Linked DNA regions of Homo sapiens. The protein of the gene in region 1 interacts with the protein of each later gene in a pairwise test. Each region holds a gene or a part of one and is shown in the gene's direction. Other genes may lie near its edges. The genes, in order: ACBD7, MESD and TEPSIN.

Evidence for each region.
Region 2: the proteins of ACBD7 (region 1) and MESD interact in binary tests that used the Homo sapiens proteins (3 or more experiments, as listed by UniProt).
Region 3: the proteins of ACBD7 (region 1) and TEPSIN interact in binary tests that used the Homo sapiens proteins (3 or more experiments, as listed by UniProt).

Annotation. Positions count from the first base shown.
Region 1 is NC_000010.11:15,078,777-15,086,418, reverse strand, and holds part of ACBD7 (acyl-CoA-binding domain-containing protein 7), read left to right. Parts: intron 1-7,378; coding exon 7,379-7,496; intron 7,497-7,642. UniProt on the Homo sapiens protein: Binds medium- and long-chain acyl-CoA esters.
Region 2 is NC_000015.10:80,986,716-80,994,755, reverse strand, and holds the start of MESD (LRP chaperone MESD precursor), read left to right. Parts: upstream 1-4,936; 5' UTR 4,937-4,964; coding exon 4,965-5,177; intron 5,178-8,040. UniProt on the Homo sapiens protein: Chaperone specifically assisting the folding of beta-propeller/EGF modules within the family of low-density lipoprotein receptors (LDLRs).
Region 3 is NC_000017.11:81,228,577-81,236,218, reverse strand, and holds part of TEPSIN (AP-4 complex accessory subunit tepsin), read left to right. Parts: intron 1-935; exon of another isoform or gene 936-2,170; coding exon 2,171-2,238; exon of another isoform or gene 2,239-2,280; intron 2,281-2,502; coding exon 2,503-2,581; intron 2,582-2,617; exon of another isoform or gene 2,618-2,715; coding exon 2,716-2,787; intron 2,788-3,700; coding exon 3,701-3,904; intron 3,905-4,009; exon of another isoform or gene 4,010-4,197; coding exon 4,198-4,372; intron 4,373-4,527; coding exon 4,528-4,641; intron 4,642-4,742; coding exon 4,743-4,821; intron 4,822-5,540; coding exon 5,541-5,675; intron 5,676-5,978; exon of another isoform or gene 5,979-6,217; intron 6,218-6,291; exon of another isoform or gene 6,292-6,481; intron 6,482-6,742; coding exon 6,743-7,291; 3' UTR 7,292-7,642. UniProt on the Homo sapiens protein: Associates with the adapter-like complex 4 (AP-4) and may therefore play a role in vesicular trafficking of proteins at the trans-Golgi network.

The DNA of each region.
Region 1 (7,642 bases):
CATCACAGAAAAGCAGTATGCTAAGAAGTATTAACATCGACCCATGATATTATCTACTAATAATGCATTTGCGTGTCAACAATATTGGGGGAAGGTAACTTTTTTTTTTTTTGAGATGGTGTCTTGCTCTGTTGCCCAGGCTGGAGTGCAATGGCGTGATCTTGACTCACTGCAACCTCCACCTCCCAGATTCAAGCAATTCTCCTGCCTTAGCCTCCTAGTAGCTGGAATTACAGGTGCCTGCCACCACGGCCGGCTAATTTTTGTATTTTTAGTAGAGACAGGGTTTCACCATGTTGGCCAGGCTGGTCTTGAACTCCTGACCTCAAGTGATCTGCCTGCCTCAGCCTCCCAAAGTGCTGGGATTACAGATGTGAGCTACCACGCCCAGCTGAAAGTAACTTTTAAAAATGACAACTAATAACTGGCTGACATATTGAAATCTCTTCTGTCTTTATTACCTCACTGGCATGTGCGGGGATCATATTGGTACTAGTGTTCTGCCAAGATGCTCACTGAGTGGAAATGAGAGGAAAGGTGACTAGTTCAGGGTCCCCAGTCTTCTATTTATTTACACAAGAATAAGTATACTGGCAGACTGTCATTGGAGTAGCAAAACAAATGGAATTTCTAATTCGGCTATAGCCTCCTGATTTTATCTGAAAATTACAATATGTTTCCATCCTCACCAAAGCATTTAGGAGAGCTGATGTTTATCCTAAATGGACAAATTTCTTTCCTAGATGATGAAGCTAAAAAACAGACTTCTTCCTCTAGAATATGTATCTTTTCAAGTCTAGGGTACTGATGATTTTAACAACTGGCAAAAAAAGACTAACCTCTTCCCCCAGCCCACATTTGTGTGACCTAAGAACCCTGCAGTTCCTTGAGTGTGAGAATTTTTTATCTTCTTAATTGGGTTGCTCAATGGGAAAGAATTGCTCAAGAAGACCTTGCCAACCCCCTATGTGGGATGACCATGTTCATTGCAGAAAGTAAAGTCAGGTGAGGTGAGAGCCACCCTCGGAGGCTGTCTTCAGCGGGGCTGAAATGTGAAAGGTAATTTACACAGCAGCCCGCCTAGTCAGCACGGAAGGATGCACCCAGGATGTACCCAGTGTGAGTGATGCTGGCGTAACTTCTACGCCAAAGGTGGGGTGAGGGAGCCTAGTGTCAAAAGTTGAACAGGAGAGAGTCCAGGGAGGGGCTGTAGTAGCCTTAAGGCAGTTTGTCTTGCAGAATCCCAAGCTCGGGTGACCGGGAGATAATGCACAAAACATTCAACCAGGATGCCGAGGACCCCTCGCTCAGGAGAAATCAGCTCAGCATTGGCTGCAGTTCCTGCCAAAGGCAGCAAGCCCAGCTCTGCAACAGGATACTGCAAAACTGTGATGCCTTTCTCTCAGGATGAGGCAGGAGAATAGGGTCTGGAGGCAGGGAACCTAAGGCCGATTCACACTGACTTTGTAGAACTAAATCAAAACCCCAACTTTCCACACCTATGTAATAAAAGGACCGGAGGCTACTCCCTTTGCAACCTCCTCCCCACTTTCTGTGTGGCAGATGGAAAATTGAAAGTATCTCTGACTGGTTGCTTTCTGCAACCAATCAGACATTTGCACAGGAATGTACCTTTGTAACTTCATTTCAGCCTCTGATTGGTTGCTTTCCCCAACCAGTCAGACTGATCGTGAGCCAAGTCTTTATTTGCATAGAAGTGTAACTTTGTAACTTCAGCCTCTGATTGCAGGCCGCTACTTCATTTACATAGGATGCACACCAAGTAACCAATGGGAAGCCTCTGGAGGGCGTTTAAGCACAGAAAATTCTGTAACAGGGATCTTGAGTCCCTGTGCTCGGCCTGCTCCCACCCTGTGGAATGTACTTTCGCTTTCAGTAAATCTCGGCTTTTGTTGCTTCATTGTTTCCTTGCTTTGTTTGTGCATTTTGTCCAATTTTTTGTTCAAAATGCCAAGAACTTGGGCACCCTCCACTGGTAACAAGAATGCTTTGGAATTCAATGTCCATGGCTCTATATTTAAAGCTGCATCTCACCTATGATAACTTTCTGATCCCCCTAAAGTCTGCTCGCTCGTTAACCATCCAACAAGGATGTACTTAATAGACTCAGACCAGGCTCACGCCACCCACCAGCAGTCCGTGAGGCCCCGTGGGTGCTGCCAAGGTGATTATTGATTGATTGTTTATTTATTGATTTGTGAGTATTTATGCAACCCCACATAGCCTTTATGTTGAGCTCTAGTAAGTTCTGTCCACACCGCTGGGAGCAGCTTTCCCTGCCCCTCTGCAGCCAACAATCGCAGACCCGATCCCATCTCATCTCAGGGATGGCTTTTTCCGTTCCGTACCTTCCCGTCTGTGCTACCTCCTGTGTTCCCAGAGCAACTGCTGCACCTTATTTGCAGCAAGTCCCCTGTGGTCACCGTTGCCCTGTTCATCTCCCACCAGGCTATGAGCGCCTTCAAGCACGCTGCCTTGTGCATGCCCATCTGCCTGGCAAAGGCCTGGCCTGTCGGAGGTGTTCAGTAAGTAGGTTTGTTAATTAGTATGAGCTGTGAGATGAACTCTGGGAGGGCAGACTCCATAGGATCAAATCAAGAATATTTTACATTCTTGGCCGGGCATCGTGGCTCACGCCTGTAATCCCAGCACTTTGGGAAGCAGAGGTAGGCAGGTCACTTGAGTTCAGGAGTTCAAGACCAGCTTGGCCAACATGGCAAAACCCTATCTTTATTAAAAATACAAAAAAATTAGCCAGGCGTGGTGGTGCATGCCTGTAATCCTAGCTACTTGGGAGGCTGAGGTGGGAGGATCGCTTGAACCAGGAGGTGGAGGTTGCAGTGAGCCGTGATTGTGCCGCTGTACTCTAGCTTGGACAACAGAGCGAGACTGTCTCAAAAAGAAAATTATATTCTTAATCATCCTTAACCCTAGCACAAAAAGAGGCTGATATTCTCTTTTTGTGGCCGAAGCTGCATCTTAGAGGAGCTTTGTTTGTTGCATCGAGTCCCAGGGCAGTGTGTCTCAAAGCTGGAAGTCAAACCTGAGTATCCTGGCCAAGGCCAATGTTGTTTGTACTCCAGCTCATCATGGCTGGGATGGGAAAGGCCTCCTGCAGGAAGGTGCATCAGAACAGCCCCTTAAGGCAGGAATGTATTGCACTGAGGTGCCAGAACCAGACAGGCTAGACAGAGAGAATGATGCTGGCCCCTGCTCTAGAACTGAGTTCCCTACCTAGGGAGGGAGAAAGAGCGGGGACCCCTGAAATGGCATGGGAAACTGTGTGAGGGCATAGCTCTTCTGTGCAGAGGGGTCCAGGACTTTCATTAGATCTTTTTTTCTTTTCTTTTTTCTTTTTTTTGAGACGGAGTCTTGCTCTGTCACCCAGGCTGGAGTGCAGTGGCAGGATCTTGGCTCACTGCAACCTCTGCTCCTGGGTTCAAACTATTTTCCTGCCTCAGTCTCCTGAGTAGCTGGGATCACAGGTGTGAGGCACCGTGCCCAGCTAATTTTTTGTATTTTTAGTAGAGACGGTGTTTCACCATTTTGGCCAGGCTGGTCTCGAACTCTTGACCTTAAGTGAGCCACCTCCCTCAGCCTCCCAAAATGCTGGGATTACAGACGTGAGCCACTGCACCCAGCCCTCATATGGGTTTTCAAGAAGGCTTAGAATTCTAATTAAGGCTTGGCACCTCAAAAGGAGTCGAGTTGCTGTCACTGGAAAATAATATGAGACTTTACAGCAAGCAGAACACCTGAGATGGCCTATAAACCTACAGAGGAAGGTCCTACACCCCTTCTGCATAGCCTTGCCCTCAAGCAGCTCAGCCACTCATGTAGCATTTCAATTTTGTTCTTATTATAAACACAATCCATGCACATTATAGAAGATTTGGAGAGTACAAAAATATTTTAAAACTACATAACTTGCCAGTAATCAGAGGCAATTACTGTTTACATATCTTTAGTATACATCTTTCTAGTTTTTATTTTTTCTATACTACTTACAAAGCTGAGTGTATAAAAAGAATTTGTGTTCTTTGCTAAACCATAAACTAAAAGTATTTCTTATGTCTTGCTTTATTGCAAGTACCTTTTTTTTTTTTTTTTTTTTGAGATAGTCTTGCTCTGTTGCCCAGGCTGGAGTGTAGTGGCATGATCTCGGCTCACTGCAACCTCTACCTCCAGGGTTCAAGCGATTCTCCTGCCTCAGCCTCCCGAGTAGCTGGGATTACAGGCATGTGCCACTATGCCCAGCTAATTTTGTATTTTCAGTAGAGACGGGTTTCTCCATGTTGGTCAGGCTGGTCTCAAACTCCCAACCTTAGGTGATCCACCTGCCTTGGCCTCCCAAAGTGCTGGGATTACAGGTGTGAGCCACTGCGCCCAGCCTGGTCACACAGCTCTTAAGAGATGGAGTTGAGATTCCAATCAAGGCAGTCTGGCTCCAGAGCCATGTTCTTAACCATGGCATTATGTATAAAGCAGCCAAGAGTTTCTTAGGAAGACACTCAGAAGACAAGGCACCCCTTGTTCCATGCCCCGTGCTTCTCAGTCCCCTGTGGGAACTGGGTAGGAGGATGGGCCACGTTCAAGGTTATTTAGGCTGAAGACCCTGATCTCCAACTTACAGGTGATTGTGCTCTTCACAAAACAACTGTTCTGGTTGTGCTACTGTTCGTGGACCAAGCTGAGAGCCCGGCTGCTTACTCTCTCAGCTCAATAACGAGATGCAGATAAACTGGGAGAGAAGAGATTTGATTTCTGTAGCTGGGTGCAAGGAGAAGGACTGCAAATTATTGCGAAGCCAACTCAAAATTACAGAGTTTTCCAGAGCTTATATGCCTGCTAAGTTATATGTCTGCATGTAAGTGTGCGTTCATCTAAAACCTTAAGTGATGAACTTCTTCTAATATATAACTAAGGGCTGAGATCTGAAGACCTTCCTCTGGAGCCTCAGTAAATTTACTTAATCTGGATGGGTCCAGGTGCTGCAGTGATTACCCTTATCTTATTTCCTGCTAAATCATGGAGGGTTGGGGAGTTCCTTCAGACCCCAATAAAACTTGTTTAATCCTAAATGGGTCCTGTTAAGAATTCCTTCATTATCTTGTCATGCCTCAAGCCCCAGGAAGGGCCTGGGCAAAACTCTTGGTGGGCTTTTGTTACCTTGGAGTCTTCGTATGAGGGCACTTGCTCTTTCTGCTTTTAGTATTTAACGTTAACCACTCAGTCAGTGCTGAAACGGTTGTTATGGAGGCCTGCCTGTTTAGCCATTAGGGAAACCTGGCCTGCCACAGTACTGCCTGTCTTTGGGGCTGGAAGGAAACTTGACCCTGCCACTCCGCTGAGCCCGCAGGGTACTGAGGTTACAGTGGGGCTATCCACTTTCTCTCCTAGGCCTTTGGATCCAAAGGGAGCTCTGGCATCAGAGAAGAAGTATGGGGGGCAGGGGGTGGCCAGCATATGTCCTTGAACTTCCCCTGTTTGACAGCCAGCCTACTGACAATTCCTGCTTATCCTGAGTTTTAAAAAATAAGGCAAGGTAAGACACAGTTTAGTTTAAAAATCTATAAAGGAAACTAATCACAAAGCTCTTTGTAGAGTATAAACTAAGAGGTTAGAAAGGGAAAAGGATAAAGATCCTGGGAACACTCAGGCTCTGGAGTAGACTGGACTTCCTTGTCTATTTCAGCCACTGGCTGAACCCTGGGCCAGCCTGAGGGTCTTGCGGGGTTAGGGAGGTCCCAGTTATCAGAGCTAACTCAGGACAAGGCTTAAACTACTTAAGTACATTTGGTTTTTTGTTTTTGTTTTTGAGACAGAGTCTCACTTTGTCGCCCAGGCTAGAGTGCAGTGGTGCTATTTCAGCTCACTGCAACCTCCGCCTCCCAGGTTCAAGCAATTCTTGTGCCACAGACTCCTGAGCAGCTGGGATTACAGGCACGCACCACCAAGCCCAGCTAATTTTTGTATTTTTAGTAGAGACAGGGTTTTGCTATGTTGGCCGGGCTGGTCTCGAACTCCTGACCTCAAGCGATCCCCCTGCCTCAGCATCCCAAAGTGCTAGGATTACAGGCATGAGCCACCACACCAGGCTTAAGTACATTGTATATAGAGTTTCCAGGAAGTCTAAAAACATACCACTCAAGCATATTGGTATACAAAGTTTTCCCTAATAAGCTCTAAATTGGCTAAACAACTCCTCTTTTCTAGAAATCAGTTGCAATAAATCTTATAATTTAGGTCTAGTGTGGAAAGGAATCTGTACAAGCAATTCAGCCAAATCAGGAATAGTGATTACCCTCAGAAACTGGCTAGGTCTAAATAATACTGATATTAAAGAATGTAGGCATGAGGGCACTGGAAGAGAAACGCCCTAGACGATGGTATTAACTGGTAGCGAAGCCCCTGCATGTAGTAAAGTTGGACTGAGGCAGAAGAGGAAGGGCGCATCTGCGAGGTGATTGAGAAACCTTCAATGAGTATAAATAATGCCAAAAAAAAAAAAAAAGAAAAGCAGCTGGGCACGGTGGCTCACACCTGTAATCCCAGCACTTCGGGAGGCCAAGGTGGGTGGATCACAGGGTCAGGAGTTCAAGACCAGCCTGGCCAAGATGGTTAAACCCCGTGTCTACTAAAAATACAAAACTTAGCCAGGCGCGGTGGCAGGTGCCTATAATCCCAGCTACTCGGGAGGCTGAGGCAGGAGAATGGCATGAACCCAGGAGGCGAAGGTTGCAGTGATCCGAGATCTTGCCACTGCACTTCAGCCTGGGCAACAGAGTGAGACTCAGTCTCAAAAAAAAAAAAGCAAACTCACCATCAGGTTCAGTGGCTCACGCCTGTAGTCACAGCACTTTGGGAGGCCGAGGCAGGGGGATCACTTGAGGTCAGGAGTTCAAGACAAGCCTGGCCAACATGACAAAACCCCATCTCTACAAAAAATACAAAAATTAGCCGAGTGTGGTGGTGCACCCCTGTAGTCCCAGCTACTTGGGAGGCTGAGGTAGGAGAATGGCTTGAGCCCCAGAAGTAGAGGTTGCAGTGAGTGGAGACGGTGCCACTGCACTGCACTCCAGCCTGGGCGAGAGAGCCAGACCTTGGCTCAAAAAAAAAAAAAAAAAAAGAAGTTAAACCGAACATTTTCTGTATTAAGAATTTTCTATAGTTCCTCATATTAGGTAAGTCCCAGGAGAGGTGAACTCCTAGGAATTCAAGTAAATTAAGATGATTCTGATAGAACCAGAGCAGCAGAAGTTCATTTCTACTTGGAACCTTCCTCTTCCTGCTCTTTGAGTTCCTATTCCTTGGTGGTAAAATGCTCCTTTTGTTTGTTTGTTTGTTCTTCCTTTAGGCTGATTTTGACAGGGCTGCAGAAGATGTGAGGAAGCTGAAAGCAAGACCAGATGATGGAGAACTGAAAGAACTCTATGGGCTTTACAAACAAGCAATAGTTGGAGACATTAATATTGGTATTATATATTATTAATATTAATATATTCATATGTTACAATTAATATATTAATTGCGATTATAATATATAATTACTTAAAATATAGTAATATACTCCGTTTGAACAATGTCTATAGAAGTGCACAGTAAAATGTTAACCTGCAAA
Region 2 (8,040 bases), on another chromosome or scaffold:
TCCTTTAAAAAAAAAAAAATGCACTTTGGGAGGCCAAGGCGGGTGGATCACGAGGTTAGGAGTTCAAGACCAGCCTGGCCAACATGGTGAAACCCCTGTCTCTACTAAAAATACAAAAATTAGCCGGACATGGTGGCATGTGCCTGTAATCCCAGCTACTCAGGAGGCTGAGGCAGGACAATTGCTTGAACTGGGGCCCGGGAGGCAGAGGTTGCAGTGAGCTGAGATCGCACCACTGCACTCCAGCCTGGGCTACACAGTGCAACTCTGTCTCAAAAAAGAAAAAAAAATGCAAAAATTAGCCAGGTGTGGTATGGGAGGCTGAGGCGGGAGGATCCCTTGAGCCTGAGAGGTGGAGGTTGCAGAGAGCCAATATCTGGCCGCTGCACTCCAGTCTGGGTGACAGAGCAAGACCCTGTCTCAAAAAAACAAACAAACAAAAACAACACACCACCACTGACGTATGTTAGATGTGAAGAAAAATAGAAAATACAGAGAAAAGGTTAAAATATTTTGGAATCTCACTGCTTAGAGACAGCCATCGTATACATATTTGCAGCTCTTTTCCTATACATAGATATATATCTGTATAATTTTAATAGCATTTAAAATCATATAGTATAAAATGAATATCTTTAGTAGCAACAAATATATATATTTGATTGCATATTATCCATCATATGTGTGGAATACAGCTTGCAACTGTAAATGTAGATTTTATAGTCTACAATTTTTGAAACACTTAGAGTTGTTCTCATTTTCCCCACTCATGGAGAGTGTTATAGGATTGTTACATTGGGTAAGTGAAGAAATACACGGAAAGCACTCAGCAGAATGCCTGTCGAATAGTAAGTGCTCAATATTAACATTACTATTATTTTCATTGTCTGTTTCCTCAGAGTCAAGTTCTTGGAAGTAGACTTGCTAATCATATTATGCACTTTTTTGTGGGGAGGGGGAGTTGATACATTTCACCTAATTTTCAAGCAGAAAACTCCATCCCCCGAGAAGTGAGTGAGAAGACTTCTTTCCTTAGCCTTGTCAACAGTGTATACTGTCTGTATTTTTATCCAGGATCAACTGATAATTTAAAAATTATAACATGTTTGAATTTGCATTTTTTGATATTAGAGAGATTCTGTGTTTTGTTTTGTTTTTGCCACATGTGAACTGGCCATTTATATTTATTCTTTTGGGAATTACCTATTCATGTCCTAGACCGTTTTTCATTTGGTTGTTCATCTTTTTCTTATTGATTTATAAGTTGTTTTTTTTTTTTGGAGACAGAGTGTTACTCTGTCACCCAGGCTAGAGTGCAGTGGCACAACCTCGGCTCACTGCCACCTCTGCCTCCCGGGTTCAAGCAATTCTCCTGCCTCAGCCTCCCGAGTAGCTGGGATTACAGGTGCATGCCACCACACCCAGCTAATTTTTGTATTTTTAGTAGAGACGGGGTTTCACCATCTTGGCCAGGCTGGTCTCAAACTCCTGACCTCAGGCGATCTGCCCGCCTCAGCCTCCCAAAGTGCTGGGATTATAGGCATGAGCCACCATGCCCAGCCAGGAAAACACAATTTTAATTATTATGTTTAACTCTGTGAGTATGCTCTTCTGCCCAAAAATAATGGTGGTGACCAGGAATGGACACCTGCCTCAGACTGGGCCAGTCACATTCTCTACTGAAAATCTGAAATTCCAACAAAAGGCAACGAGTTAGTTGCTACCAATATTTAGCAACTACAATGAATGATTCGTGTCTATGTAATTAAATTTTTTAAGTGAGTAAATTTAGGGGCTGGTAAAACCCAGGAAGTATGCAGTACGTCTATTCTTACATTGGATTAAAAAGCAACAAAAGTGCAAAATGGTAAATACTCATTACCTCTCTCAGCCCATCCCCAGGCCTCTCCTCCTATGCCTTCCCATGAGTCAGTCATTAGAGGGTTAATGTTTGGCACAATGGTGACTGTACCCATCAGCTCATCTGCCTCAGTTCTGATTAACTGGTAATTGTGCTACTCCAGTTTTTCAACATTTTGAATATTACCCCCGCCTGCTTCCAAATAGTACTAGAAAGTCTTGCTTCACCCTCCTCTGTTGTGGAATGATGCATGCCAGGATGAGCTCAGGTTAAGACACTAATTAGATCTGAGATTCAACTTTACCATCCACAGTCACTGAATCACTTAGAGGTGGGGTTAGTATTAACCCCAGAGCACTGAAGAGACTTGTGGCTTCACTTAGGCCATGAGCACACAATCTTTCACATCTGTCCTCTCCAGTCTACACTGCACCACCTGGTACCTGGCACAGACTCTTGTCCCATCTGAGTGCTCCTCGCTCCAGACTTTTCAATGCATTTTCCATTTGGCTCCCAATTTAACCATCCTGAGTGCCTCACTGATTAACCTAGATGGTGCTGTGGCGGAAGAAGGACTCCAAGAAGACTGGACCTTGTTATCCAGTACACCTCGGCTTAGATTCTTGCCTTGCCGCTGCACTAGCTGTGCAGCCTCAGACAAATTGTGTAATTGTAAAACCAGGATTTCCTCTTATTTAAATTGGAGAGATTATCATCATCATCACATCATCCCTTTGGGCCCGGATCTCCTGTAATCTGCATGAAATTTACTGCATATTGTTTATCTGCTCTGCCAGAGTAAGGATATTGTTATATTCATTTTTGCATCAGTGCCTCACCTGATTCTTGGTTAACAATAGGTCTTTGGTAAATAAAATTCCCCCCAAGTTGAATGGAATCAAGTTCCAAACACTAAAGTAAGTTTCAAATATCCAAATGTTGAAAATGCAATTGATCCAGATGTTTTCATATCAGTGGATTATATGCCGAATTGATTTCCTCCTTAGAGGAAAGTCAGTAGCCCTGAAACTTTCTACACATTCCCAACAATTTCTGTAAAACTTTCAATGATCTTATTCTCTATAACTAGATATGTGGGCCAAGAATCCCAACACGTTTGCCCCTTAACTTTGAAGCTGGCAATATGAATTACCAGGGTGACCCCTCCCAGTAGAGCACATGATCAGCCACAGCTGTGCATGTTTTTTAGTATGACTGCACTAGGATAGGGCTCCAAGCCACTGGGTGGAGCAATGTGCTCTGGGGAGAAAGCTCATGACATTTCCCCTATGATTTCACAAAAGAAAAAATCTTTTTCTTATGAGTTGTTTCTGCTCAACGTCAATAGGAAAGGTCATAGCTTAGCGTGTTTACATACAGATGCATGCATGAATATGTAGAATATCAGCCACTCCTACGGTGTGAGAGAATTTAAATTGCACTGGTCCTAAGAGTGAAGGAAAGCAGGCGTAGTTGCCTACTCAACCTCCACTTTATTCTTTTCCCTTTATAACAATCCTAATTTCATTTGAGATGACAATGTATACAGCTAGAAGACAATTTCTCAGCCTCCCTTGGAGAGCTAGGTTCCAGCCAATGAGATGTAAACAGAAATGTATGCAATGTTCAAGTAGGCTGCTTAAAAGAAGTTGACTCCACTTGAAAGGTGTGCTTGGTTTGGCCTGCCTTCTCCCTTCCTCTGGTTGAATGTCATCTTGATGACTGGAGCTCCAGGAGCCATCCTGGAATTTCTGACCTTGAGGGTGGAAGCCACAGGCTAATATGATAGAAGGATGAGGAAGAGGCTGAGTACCAGATGGCTGAGAAGCCACTATACCAGCCCTAGTTTCGAGTTTACACTGCTTCTGTGAAAGAAAAGTCAATCACAATAAAACCTTTTATCTTGTTTAAACCACCTTAAAAAGTCAGTTTTCTTTTATATGCAGCCTACTAATCCTATCCAAACAAGGCTTGAATAAGGTTTACTACAGCTCTTTTTTGTTGTAATAGCAGAAAAATTGGTAATAAATGCCCATCAATAGGAAAATAAACTATTAATTTAACAATACCAAATAAAACTGTGCAGCAGTATAAAGAATGAAGCGTTTTTTGTTGTTGTTTTTGAGATGCGGGTCTTGCTTTATTGCCCAGTCTGGTCTCAAACTCCTAAACTCAAATTATCGTCCTACCTCAGCCTCCCAAAGTGCTGGGATTATAAAGGCTTAAGCCACCGTGCGGCCTTTGGTTTTTTTTGTTTTTTGTTTTTTAAGGTCTTATGTAATTAAACATTTTAAAGACATCAGCTGATGAGCCGTTTAAAACAAGAAGAATCTCAAAGCATCTTTGGCCAAAATCTTTTTAAGAAACAAAAAGTAGCGTGATTCAGCCTTGAAAAGGATTAGTTAGAGCCTACAGTATTAGGTTGAAATCAAAGAAAGGCAAGCTTTTTTTTTTTTGGATGAATAGTAATGATCTTTTTGGAAAAAAAAAACAAATATTGAAAGCTGGTTGAACTGAATCCTCTTTATTGATGAGGAAAGCAGTGGACTCGAACTATTTATGACTTTCTGAAAAAAGTTGCCCTACCTGCCACTCACTTCTTTTTAACTGGCTGTTCTCAAAGGAAATTGCAAGAGACTGAGGATAAACGTCCGACATCCAGAAATGGGCTTTTTTAGAGCCGAGGCAGCCTCCAGAACTTCCAGTTCCAATTTATTTCACAGGCGAGAAACTGAGGTCAACAGGGACGTTGGTTAGTGGTTCCTGGAGGCCCTGAAGGAACTTTTGGACCTGGCTTGTGCGTTCCAGAGAAAAAGGTCGGCCTCTGACGGAAAACGAAAAATGAGCACTCAGGGACCCACCCAGCCGGGACAGAGCGCCTCAGCCGGACCAAGAGGAGGAGCCAGTGGGGCGGGGCCAAAATGGCGGAGGGGCGGGGCTTCCAGAGGCGGGGGTTAGGAAATGGTACGGGGCGGGGCCCGGTAGGCTAGCGAGGGCCGGGAGGCGGGGCCTCGGAAAGGCGGACAGGAAGGCGTGTGCAAGGCGGGGTCCGGCCCGCGCAGGTCGGGTAAGCGCGTCTAGGGCGCTGCGCGGCGCAGCGAAAATGGCGGCTTCCAGGTGGGCGCGCAAGGCCGTGGTCCTGCTTTGTGCCTCTGACCTGCTGCTGCTGCTGCTACTGCTACCACCGCCTGGGTCCTGCGCGGCCGAAGGCTCGCCCGGGACGCCCGACGAGTCTACCCCACCTCCCCGGAAGAAGAAGAAGGATATTCGCGATTACAATGATGCAGACATGGCGCGTCTTCTGGAGCAATGGGAGGTCCGCGGCGCGCGCACACCCTCCCGGCTCTTCTCTGTGCGGGACCCTGTTCCCTATGACCCCTTACCTGTTCTGTCTTGGGACCTTTCTGACCCCCTAACCTCCTCTACTCATGCCTTGAATCCTTACTGACCCACTGAAGCCACTGTTGACCCTCCATTCCTCCTCTGACCCGCGCGCCCTGCTGACCCTCGCTCCAGCCCTCTGTCATTCCAGTGCCCTGTTCCTCCTGCCATTTCTCAAACCACTTCAATCACGGATCTGCCCCTCACTGTTCAGCTTTGCTCTCCCTTCACCCTTCAGTGCCCTGGTTGTCTTTGCGTTGATTCTTGTGGTCAGTGAGCCCTGCAAACAGGGAGAGTGACCTTTCCCAATCTACTAAAGAGCATTTCCTTCTGTTTTGCGGTGAGTGGGTGGGAGAGTGGGTTGCAGTGAAGATGGTCTTCCTTAATGGTTATCTCAGCTGTCTTCTAAATCAGTATAATTTTAGACTTCCTATTTTGGTATATGTCCCTGCTGGGAATTTTGTGCTTTTTGTGGGTGGATTTATTTTACTGAGGGGAGAAGTATCAATGGCTAATGGCTCTGTATCGTGAAACTCACGCTTTTTGTTCAAAGGAGAGTAAGTTTTCTGGTTTGTCACTTGGACGCACCGGAGTGTGCAGTTACAGGGAGTGTGTAATACGCTTTAAGGTAAAGATTACTGGCCAAAACCACATTGCTGCCTTTTCCCCTTCCTAAGGTGATTGTATCGTCCTGGTTGACTTGCATAGCTGTGGAACCTTGGGCAGGTTATGTCTAGTTTCTAGGCCTCGGTTTCTTTATCTGCAACATGAGGAGGTTAGGATGGGTCCTAAGATTCCTTCCAACACTGATGTTTTGTTATTTTGTGATTATCTCTGTGTGTGTTACGGGAGAAGGGAAAGACTTTCAGACAAGAGTTTAAAATACCACCTGATGCATCTGACTAGAAGAATGCAGGCTTGTGTTTTCATGTGGTCATCAACAGCTGATGGAAAGATTGGGATAGATTTGAGTGTAGAGAGAACGTCCCCATTCACCGTCTCCCTTGCAATCTCCTTGTCTCTTTTTGGACTCCAGCAAATAAAGCCTTTTGATCTGCCAGAGTGAGAACATCACCTCATGAGAAATCCTCCCCTTGACCTACTCAGACCCTGAGCTAGACGAAGAGGGTGCTGAAGAGATGAACAAAGATTGCACTGGGAACAGTAGATAACAGGATGGATGAGTGGGGAGAGACTTTGAAGGCCAAGAAAAACACATTATCTCATTTAATCCTTTTACCCCATCCATGAGGGAGGTACTTATCCCTATTTTCTAGATGATGACATTGAGACACAAAGAGGTTAAATAACTTGCTCCACATCGCACAGCAAGCTAGCTGAGTTTCAAATTCTTTCGCGACTTTTAGAGCCAGTTCTTTGAACTGTTTTACCTGTACTGCCACACATGTTGGTGACAGAAGTGCAAATGAAGGATAGTGAGGAAGACGTGGATTAAGCTAGAAACTGCAGGAGCAGAGTAGAAGGGAGAAATGTGAGATTTTTATACTTTTAACAGGACTTGATGGTTGATTTTGTTTTTTAAATTATTTTTTATAGAGACAGGGTCTCCTTATGTTGGCTGGGCTGGTTTTGAACTCTTGGCCTTTGCAGTCCTCCCACCTTGGCTTCCCAAAGTGTTGGGATTACGGGCGTGAGCCACCATGCCTGGGCAATTGATTGATTTTGTGAATAGCAGGGCCACATAATGTAGTAAAAAGACAGGTTGGCTGGGCGCAGTGGCTCACGCCTGTAATCCCAACACTTTGGGAGGCAAAGGCGGGTGCATCACCTGAGGTCAGGAGTTCAAGACCAGCCTGGCCAACATGGTGAAACTCCATCTCTACTAAAAATAAAAAAATTAGTTGGGCATGGTGGCGGGCACCTGTAATCCCAGCTACTTGGGAGGCTGAGGCACAAGAATCGCTTGAACCAGGGAGGTGGAGGTTGCAGTGAGCCAAGATCATGCCACTGCACTCCAGCCTGGGCGACAGGGTGAGACTCTGTCTCAAAAAAAAAAAAAAAGACAGATTTTGAACTCAGCTTTACCCCTCACTAGCTACTTCATCCTAGTTTTACGTATCTGTAAAGCCAGATAACGCCCTACTTTGCAGGGTGCCATGCGGATTAAATGAGTTAATGTTTGTAGACGCTCTACAGACATGAGGACTCTTCCCCAGTAGCAGTGTTTTTTATGTGGGAGAGCGTATCCATCTCTGTGGGTGCTTTTTTTGTAGGAAGCAGTTCTTCTCCTCTTGTGACCATCTCTAAATCCATACCCTCACTCCTTCCCCAGCAGTGTGAGAAACAGTGCTTCAGTGAGAGGCTGTGCCTCAGAGGTGTGGAGAGGTGAGAATTCCTTCCATTGTGTTACAACTAATTCTGAGTCCCAATTGGTGTAGAAAAACCAAAGGTGGTTATTACATTTTACATTATGATAGCCAGGTATAATGGGAAGAGGCAGTTGGAGGGATTTGGAGCCAGAAATGTGGTTTGCACTTCTAGCATGTGAGTAAATTAAGTAAATCATTTATCCTCTCTGAACATCATCTTCCTTGTATATTAAATGGAACCGGGTAGGATTGTTCTGAAGGTTGGAGATAATATATGTAGAGTGCCTGGGACTTAGTAGCTACTTAGTAGATGTCACTTATTATTAATATCAAGAACCATGGGAGGAAGAAGAGGATTTGCAGAAAGGGGAGCTCAGCTTTGTAGCTACTGACTTAGACAAACAGTAATGAAGGAGCTCTAAAGCCAGTTGAAAATGCAAGACTGGCCTGGAGGCAGGGCTAGGACTG
Region 3 (7,642 bases), on another chromosome or scaffold:
GGGCCCCGGCCAGTCGGTCTGTCCAGGCAGAAGATGGGTCTGGGGGAGCTGTCCCCGCAGGCTTGGGGGCAGTCCCATGTGCCTCTGCCTAATGAGGACTTGTGGGGGCTTGGCCTGAGATCTTCCATGGGGTGGAGGGAGGCCTGGCTCCAGGTGGTCACTGGGCGCACCATGTCTGGACCCCACCCCAGCCCCTGAGTGGGGAATTCTGGGGAGGGAGACTGAGTCTGTCTCGTGCCACTGCTTGCTTGTGGAGACCTCAGGGTGTACCATCCACTGGGCTCACCCCAAAACCGGTGTCGAAACCAGTGTTGTCCCACTTTATGGCAAGTGGGCATGCAGCTCTAGGTGTTCCGCAGGGGCCAGTGCCCTGGGCCGCCATAGACAGTTGTGACACATGACTTAGGCAGTAGATGCCCCTGAGGGGACGGCAGTGCGGGGGTGCTCTCGCCATCCTCACAGAGCTCCTCACAGCTTTGGGGCCAAGGCAGCACCAGCCATTTATCCTCACCATTCAGCGGGCCAGAGGGCCCCGGGCTCCAGGCCACTCCCGTGGCTGTGGTTGGTGCATGTACGTCGTGGCCTCAGTGGTCTCGGGGACACGCCCTGGGGTGGGGGCTGCAGCAGGTAGGGGGATGGGGCACAGCAGGACCTGAGGATGGGAAAGGCTCTTCTTCAGACCCTGGGTTCTTGTCGGCACCAGAGTCTCTCCTGTGCAGAGGCAGCTATGGATGATGGCTGTTGCCTGCCGTGCCTGGACACTGGCCCTGGGTGACACACAGGCTGTGGGAGGTGTCAGGACAGGCCCTGTGAGGAAAGTGGGTGCCAGATGCCACACGTGAGAGACGGGGCGCCCTGCTCCAGGTGGTGGGTGTGCAGTGAGGATGGCCTGCCCCACGCGCGCAGAGCGTCAGAAAGAGGAAAGAAAACGCAGCTGGCAGTTACAGACAGATTTTCTTTAGTTAAAACCTGAGAGGCACCCCCAGCCGATTGCGGTCAGGAGCACTTTATCTTACAGACTGAATGTTGGTTTTAGGATGAGAGGGCTTATCAGAAGCTCGGAATGTTTATGTGTGTGGAGAAGTTTATGGCAGGGTTGGAAGGAGGGAAGGTTATCTTGGGGCAGGCATCTTTTCAGCCTGGAGGTGGGTTTTCTCGAAGCTGGCATCTTCCCGGCTGGAGAAGGGTTATCTTGGGGCTAGCATGTCTCTGGTTGGGGAGGAGTTTGGAATGTTTCTGGTTGGAGATGTTATTTGTGGTTCATGGTCGTGCTGACCTTAGCCATTAGGCTGATGCCCTATGGATTTAGGCAGTTTTTGGTTAAGGTGAACTTTAGAATGAGGGGCTTGTCCAAGATGGTGATGCTCCTGCTCTGTCACAGAGCAGGGGCAGCGTGGGGTGGCAGGTGGGTGCCCTGGGCTCCTGCAGGGAAGATGGCAGCCTCAGGGTGTCAGTTCATCCAGCCATTGACTCAGCTTGTGGCCGCCAGCCCTGGGCCCAGGGACAGCCAGGAGCATCGTCTCCGAATCACGGGACCAGCCTGCCAGGGTGGAGGTAGACGGCCGAGGGGCGTGAGTGGATTCGCCTGTGACAGAGGCTCTCGAGGGGTTCTCAGAGGCACAGCTCTCAGCCTGAGCCCTGAAAGGATGCCGCGGCCCCAGGTGTAGGCTTGGGGGGCCCTGGGGCCGGAAGATTTAAGGAAAGAAGCCCCAGTTCATCATGACAGGAACTCTCAGAGCAGGGGAGCTCGAGGCGGCTGAGACTGGGGTTGGGTGGGGCTAGGTGGAGCTTTCAGGCTGTGATAAGAACGCTGGTTTCTCCCTCCAGGCCCCGGAAGCCTCTGAGGGGTCCCTGGTGCACCTGGGGCAGGGAGAGTGGGCTTCGGGGAGGCCACACCCGCTCAGGCACCAGGGGTTGCCGACCCTGGGGGAGACGAGGTGGTTGCTGTGGAGAGAGTCTCGCCTCTGTGGGGCATGGGTGAGGGGGAGCTGAGGGTCTGCTCAGGTGTGGCCTCTGCAGGGTCCTGGAGGAGGGCATCCCATTGGCTGTGACAGAAGGGCCTTGGTGGCAGGAACTTGCCACCCTGGAGTGGGCCCAGGGCACCGTGCTCCACAGGGAGCAGCGGTGCCAGGCTCAGCCCTGCCCCCGACTTGCCTTTTCTGTTCTGCAGCTTTTGCAGGGCCCCCAGATCCTCTGCACGGGAACAGCTTGTACCAGAAGGTTCGCGCGGCCGCGCAGGTGAGCCCAGGAGCAGTGTCGCTCTGCGGGGTGCCCCTCCTCCTGTAGAGGGGTGGGATTGGGGCCAGGATGTCAGCTGGGGGGTTTGCAGTTCTCCCATCCGGGACCCCTGCCTCTGCTCCTTGCTGGTGGACACAGAGCCTGTGTCCAGCTGAGTGGCTCAGGAGAAGTGTCCGGGGGACAGAACGGAGCTGATATGGGTGGCAGGGTGAGTACAGCAGGCCCTGGTGTGAGGACACTGAGGGCCTTCGCCTCCCCCTGTAGGACTTGGGGAGCACCCTGTTCTCGGACACCGTGTTGCCGCTGGCTCCCTCCCAGCCTCTGGGGACCCCGCCTGCCACAGGTAGGTGACTGAGGGGACCGTGTCCAGCTCTGGCACCTGGTTTCTGCCTCCTTGAGTGTCCTGGGTGTCTGTGCCATCCGTGGGCAGGGCCGAGGGTGGGGGCCGGCTTGCTGCTAACGGAGGACCCTCTGCAGGCATGGGCTCCCAGGCCAGGCCGCACAGCACCCTCCAGGGTTTCGGCTACAGCAAGGAACACGGCCGCACGGGTGAGTGGGGAGGGCCTGCATGGGCTCTGGCATCTCAGGGTGTGGGGATGAGGAGGTGGTGGGGGCCGGACCATGCCGCCCCATCTAGTAGCTGCTGTCCCCCGTCCCCTCCCCTACATGGCCTCAACCCTTCCTGGGGCTGTCCCCACTGTCTCTCTCTGGCTGCTGACGTGGGGGTGGGGCAGGTGTGGCCAGGGCTGCTTTATGGACAGATGAGAGAAACCAGGCCGAGCAAGAAGTCAGGGCTGGGCCCCGTGGCAGGGGTGAGTCCCACTCTGAGAGGGGCCGAGGGCTGTGCCCCTGGCTGTGGTGCAGGTGACTCAGGCAGTCCCGTGTGGAGCTGTTATGAGGTGGGGCAGTACCAGTGGACAACTGCTCACCAGCGCCAGGAGAGCCACAGGTGGCACCACTGCCTGCGGCTGGGACCCAGCCCCCAGCCCAGCTGTGCCCTGCTGCCGGGCCCTGGGCGGTGTGTAGCTGCTCACCGTTAGGCTGTGTCACGCCGTCCTGCGCACAGCCTGGGGCTCCTGCCGACACTTTGGTGTCGGGGCAGCTTCTACAGGGAACTCACACAGGAAAGGCCGGCCCCTCCCCGAGCCCTGGACACACCCTCCCTGAGCCAAGGCCAAGCCCAAGCCCCTTAGGACACCTTCACCCCCAGAGGACAGAGGGACGGAGGCATAACTCTGCAGTGAGCTTTGGTGTCCAGGCCCACTGGGAGTGGGAATGCCAAAGCGGAGTCCACTGGGAGCTTCCAGAGGGCCTGGGGCCCACCAGGAGGCCTCCCTACCTGCAGCATGTACCCCGACCTCTCCAAGCTTGAGCAGGGAGCCGATGCGGGCACCCTGCTCCCAGAGAACGCGGGTGGGGGCCGCACTGGGCGGCCGTCCCATCTCCCTCTCCTCGGGTACAGGCTCGGCAGGCGAAGCCTTCCTCTCCACCATCCAGAAGGCCGCAGAGGTGGTGGCCAGCGCCATGCGCCCCGGGCCCGAGAGTCCCAGTACCCGGAGGCTCCTGCCGCGGGGTGACACCTACCAGCCTGCCATGATGCCTTCAGCCAGCCACGGTCCCCCAACCCTGGGGAACCTACTCCCCGGGGCCATTCCAGGTCCCCGAGGTATCGAGGCGAGGGCTCCTCCCCTTGGGGTCTGGGTCACTCCTTCCTGTCACCGCTGGGGCTTTGCGGCCACGGAGGCAAATCCCAGGGCCTCCCACACAGCAGGAGGGGTGGGACCCGCGGCGGAAGCACATGCCCATGGGGCTGGTGTTTGCTGAAGCTGGAGCCAAGGTGGCCACCCATCCTCAGCTCAGGACTCAGCCCCCGAGGCCTCCTGGTCCAGGGCCCCGGGAGGTGGGCATGGGGCTGGCCTGAAGCCCCAGGGATCTCACCGGCTGTCCTGTTTCCTCCAGCTGTGAGGCATCAGCCTGGGCAGGCCGGAGGGGGCTGGGATGAGCTGGACAGCGGCCCCAGCTCTCAGAATTCCTCCCAGAACAGCGACCTGAGCAGGGTCTCGGACTCGGGCAGTCATTCCGGCAGCGACAGCCATTCAGGGGCCAGCCGGGAGCCGGGTGACCTGGCAGAAAGGTGAGCGGGAGCTGCCAGATATGTGGGAGAGGTCTCGGAGGCACCACACTGTCCCCCTCCCAGCGCGGCTCCTGCTCTCCAGGTTCTCCCCCATGCGAGACAGGAGTGGGGGCATGGCCTCCACTCACCCTTGACCCGGCCATTCCCCCTGGCAGGGTCGAGGTGGTGGCCCTGAGTGACTGTCAGCAGGAGTTGAGCTTGGTGAGGACTGTGACTCGGGGACCACGCGCCTTCCTGAGCCGCGAGGAGGCACAGCACTTCATCAAAGCGTGAGTGCGCCCGGACCCGCCCTGCTCTGCCTCAGCCCCAACCGTGGGCGAGGGAGGAGGGAACGGGCCGCACCCGCCACCCAGGTGTCCCCTCTGTGCAGGTGTGGACTGCTCAACTGTGAGGCCGTGCTGCAGCTGCTGACCTGCCACCTGCGTGGGACCAGTGAATGCACGCAGCTGGTGAGCTGCACACGCGGGCGGGAGGGCGTGACTGTGTGCATGTGCCTGTGTGCGTGTGTGTGCGTGTGCGTGTGTGTGCACGTGTGCCTGTGTGCACACCTGTGTGTGAACATTCCTCTGTGTGGCTGTGCGTGCGCACATGCCTGTGTGTGTGCGTGTGGGTGTGTATGCCTGTGTATGTATGCCTGTGTGTGTACACACTCGTGCATGTGTGCGGTGTGTACACACTTGTGCACGTGTGTGGTATGCACACATCTGTGTGTGTGTGTACATGACTGCATGTGTGTGGTTGTGTATGTATGTGCCTGTGTGTGTGTGCATGCACATGAAAGTGTGGACACGTGTGTGCGTGTGTCGGGGGGCGTGCGGAGGAATGAAGGTAAGGCAATCGGGGCAGCAGGTCACGTGCTTCTCGCTGGGGTCTGTCCAGGAGCCGGGGAGGACATGGCTCTGGTGTCCGGGAGCTGGGGTGTAAGGCGGTGAAGACAGGGCTCTGGTGTCTGGGAGCGGGGGTGTAAGGTGGTGAGGACAGGGCTGTGGTGTCTGGGATCCGGGGTGTAAGGCGGTGAGGACAGGGCTGTGGTGGAGCTGTCTCTGGGGCCTCCTGGCACTCCAGTCATTGATGAGGAGGAAGAAGAGGGAGAGAGATGGCCAAATAGGCCTCCCTGGCGTGGACCTGCTGCCCCATGGGTGCTGATGTCCCCTCCCTTCACCCGCAGAGGGCGCTGTGTGCCATCGCCTCCCTGGGGAGCAGCGACCTCCTCCCCCAGGAGCACATCCTCCTCCGCACCCGGCCGTGGCTGCAGGAGCTCAGCATGGGCAGCCCGGGACCTGTGACCAACAAGGCCACCAAGGTGGGCAGCTGCGGAGGCCACACGCACACCGGGGTCCAAGGGTACAGTGGGAGATACGCTGCAGTCCACGGCCACCCCGTCCCTGCCCGGCGCCTGGTCAGCCCTTCCCGGACCCCCTCTCAAGTCCCTGTCCCGCTGGCAGAGGGAGCAGCAGCAAGTCAGGGTCCTCACCTCCCCATTGCCTTCCCGCCTTCCACCCAAACTCTGCAGCACTCACAGTACACTGGCCTCTACCTATTCCTGGAAGCCCCCAGACTCCGCTGCCTTAATGTTCCTGCCCTTGTGTCTTGGCCTCACACTTACCTCTTCCAGGAAGCCCTCCCTGACTGCACATGCAGTTTGCCACCCATGACACAGCTCATGCTCAACTCCCAAGCTCCGGAGGGCAGAAATGGTTCCATTCATCTCTGTGCACTTGAACACTCTGAACTGCCTGGCGGCCACTGGAATCACACGGGGAGGCCTCTCCCGGCCGCCAGGCCCTGGCACCTTCCCTCTGCCTGTGGGCATTCCCAGCTTCTTTCTTCCTGTTTTCTCCCTGGCTGCTGGAAACACAGGTCCTCAGTCACCCATCCCCAAGTCATCCTTAACTGTCATTGGCCATCTGCTAGCTCACCTTTCAGTCAGAGCGACGAGTGAGCCTGGGGTTCGCACCACCGCAGGCGAACCTCATAGTGGGGTTTCTAAAACGGGCATGCTGGAAGAACCCTGCGTCCAACAGTTGGAAATGCCCAGATGTGCCAGGCCACGTGTTCACTCCCTCCGGCAGTGCCTGGCGGGTTATGACGGGGAGGGTGTCCATTTGTCTAGTAGTGAGTAAAGGAGCAAGATTCGAGGTGTGTATGTGACACCTGCCCCGTGTCGCCAGCACCAGCCCAGCAGCTGCTCTCGGTGGGATGACAACTGGGTGCACTGCCCCAGCCCCTCCCAGCAGCCGGTGTCCTGCCCAGAGGTGGCCCTGCCCTCTGGGTGGAGGGACTGAGGAGGTCCTAGGGAGAAGCGGGCCCTGGTCCCCACATTTCCCAGGGTTGCATAGGAACCTCCCTGGTTCCTCCTTCCTCTTTCAGATCCTGAGGCACTTTGAGGCCTCCTGTGGGCAGCTGTCCCCTGCCCGGGGCACCTCAGCTGAGCCTGGCCCCACAGCCGCCCTCCCAGGCCCATCTGACCTGCTGACCGACGCTGTGCCTCTCCCTGGGAGCCAGGTCTTCCTGCAGCCTCTGAGTTCAACCCCGGTCTCGTCCCGGAGCCCTGCTCCCTCATCTGGGATGCCGTCCAGCCCTGTGCCCACCCCACCCCCAGATGCCTCCCCCATTCCAGCCCCCGGAGACCCCAGCGAGGCCGAGGCCAGACTGGCAGAAAGCAGGCGGTGGAGACCTGAACGGATCCCAGGGGGCACGGACAGCCCAAAGAGAGGCCCCAGCAGCTGTGCGTGGAGCCGCGACTCCTTGTTTGCTGGCATGGAGCTGGTGGCCTGTCCCCGCCTGGTGGGGGCTGGGGCTGCTGCGGGAGAGTCCTGTCCTGATGCTCCCCGCGCCCCCCAAACATCGTCCCAGAGGACAGCAGCCAAAGAGCCTCCTGGCTCAGAGCCGTCAGCTTTCGCGTTCCTGAACGCCTGACCCGATGGCCTGGCCCTGGAGTCTTCAGCTTCAGCTGCTGTCTGGGGCGGTCTGTGCTTCCTGAGCAGCCTCAACCGTAGCTGCTACAGTCTCCAGGCAGCTTGACTTGAGAGGACGACCCTAGGGCTACCTCAGTTTCCCCCATCTCCTCTGCCAGAGGCTCTGGCTATTTGGACTTGAATCCCTACGAGGGATGGCAGGTGGCAGGGCTTCAGAAATGTCGATCTCAGGGCTCTCAGGGGGCAGTCCCTGCCTGTCTTGCTCTCAGACATGAGGTTTCTTGTATGAATGCGGAAGCGACTACCAGGTTCCTTATTTCATTTTGATCTCAGCTCCCTCCTTCCCCAGGAG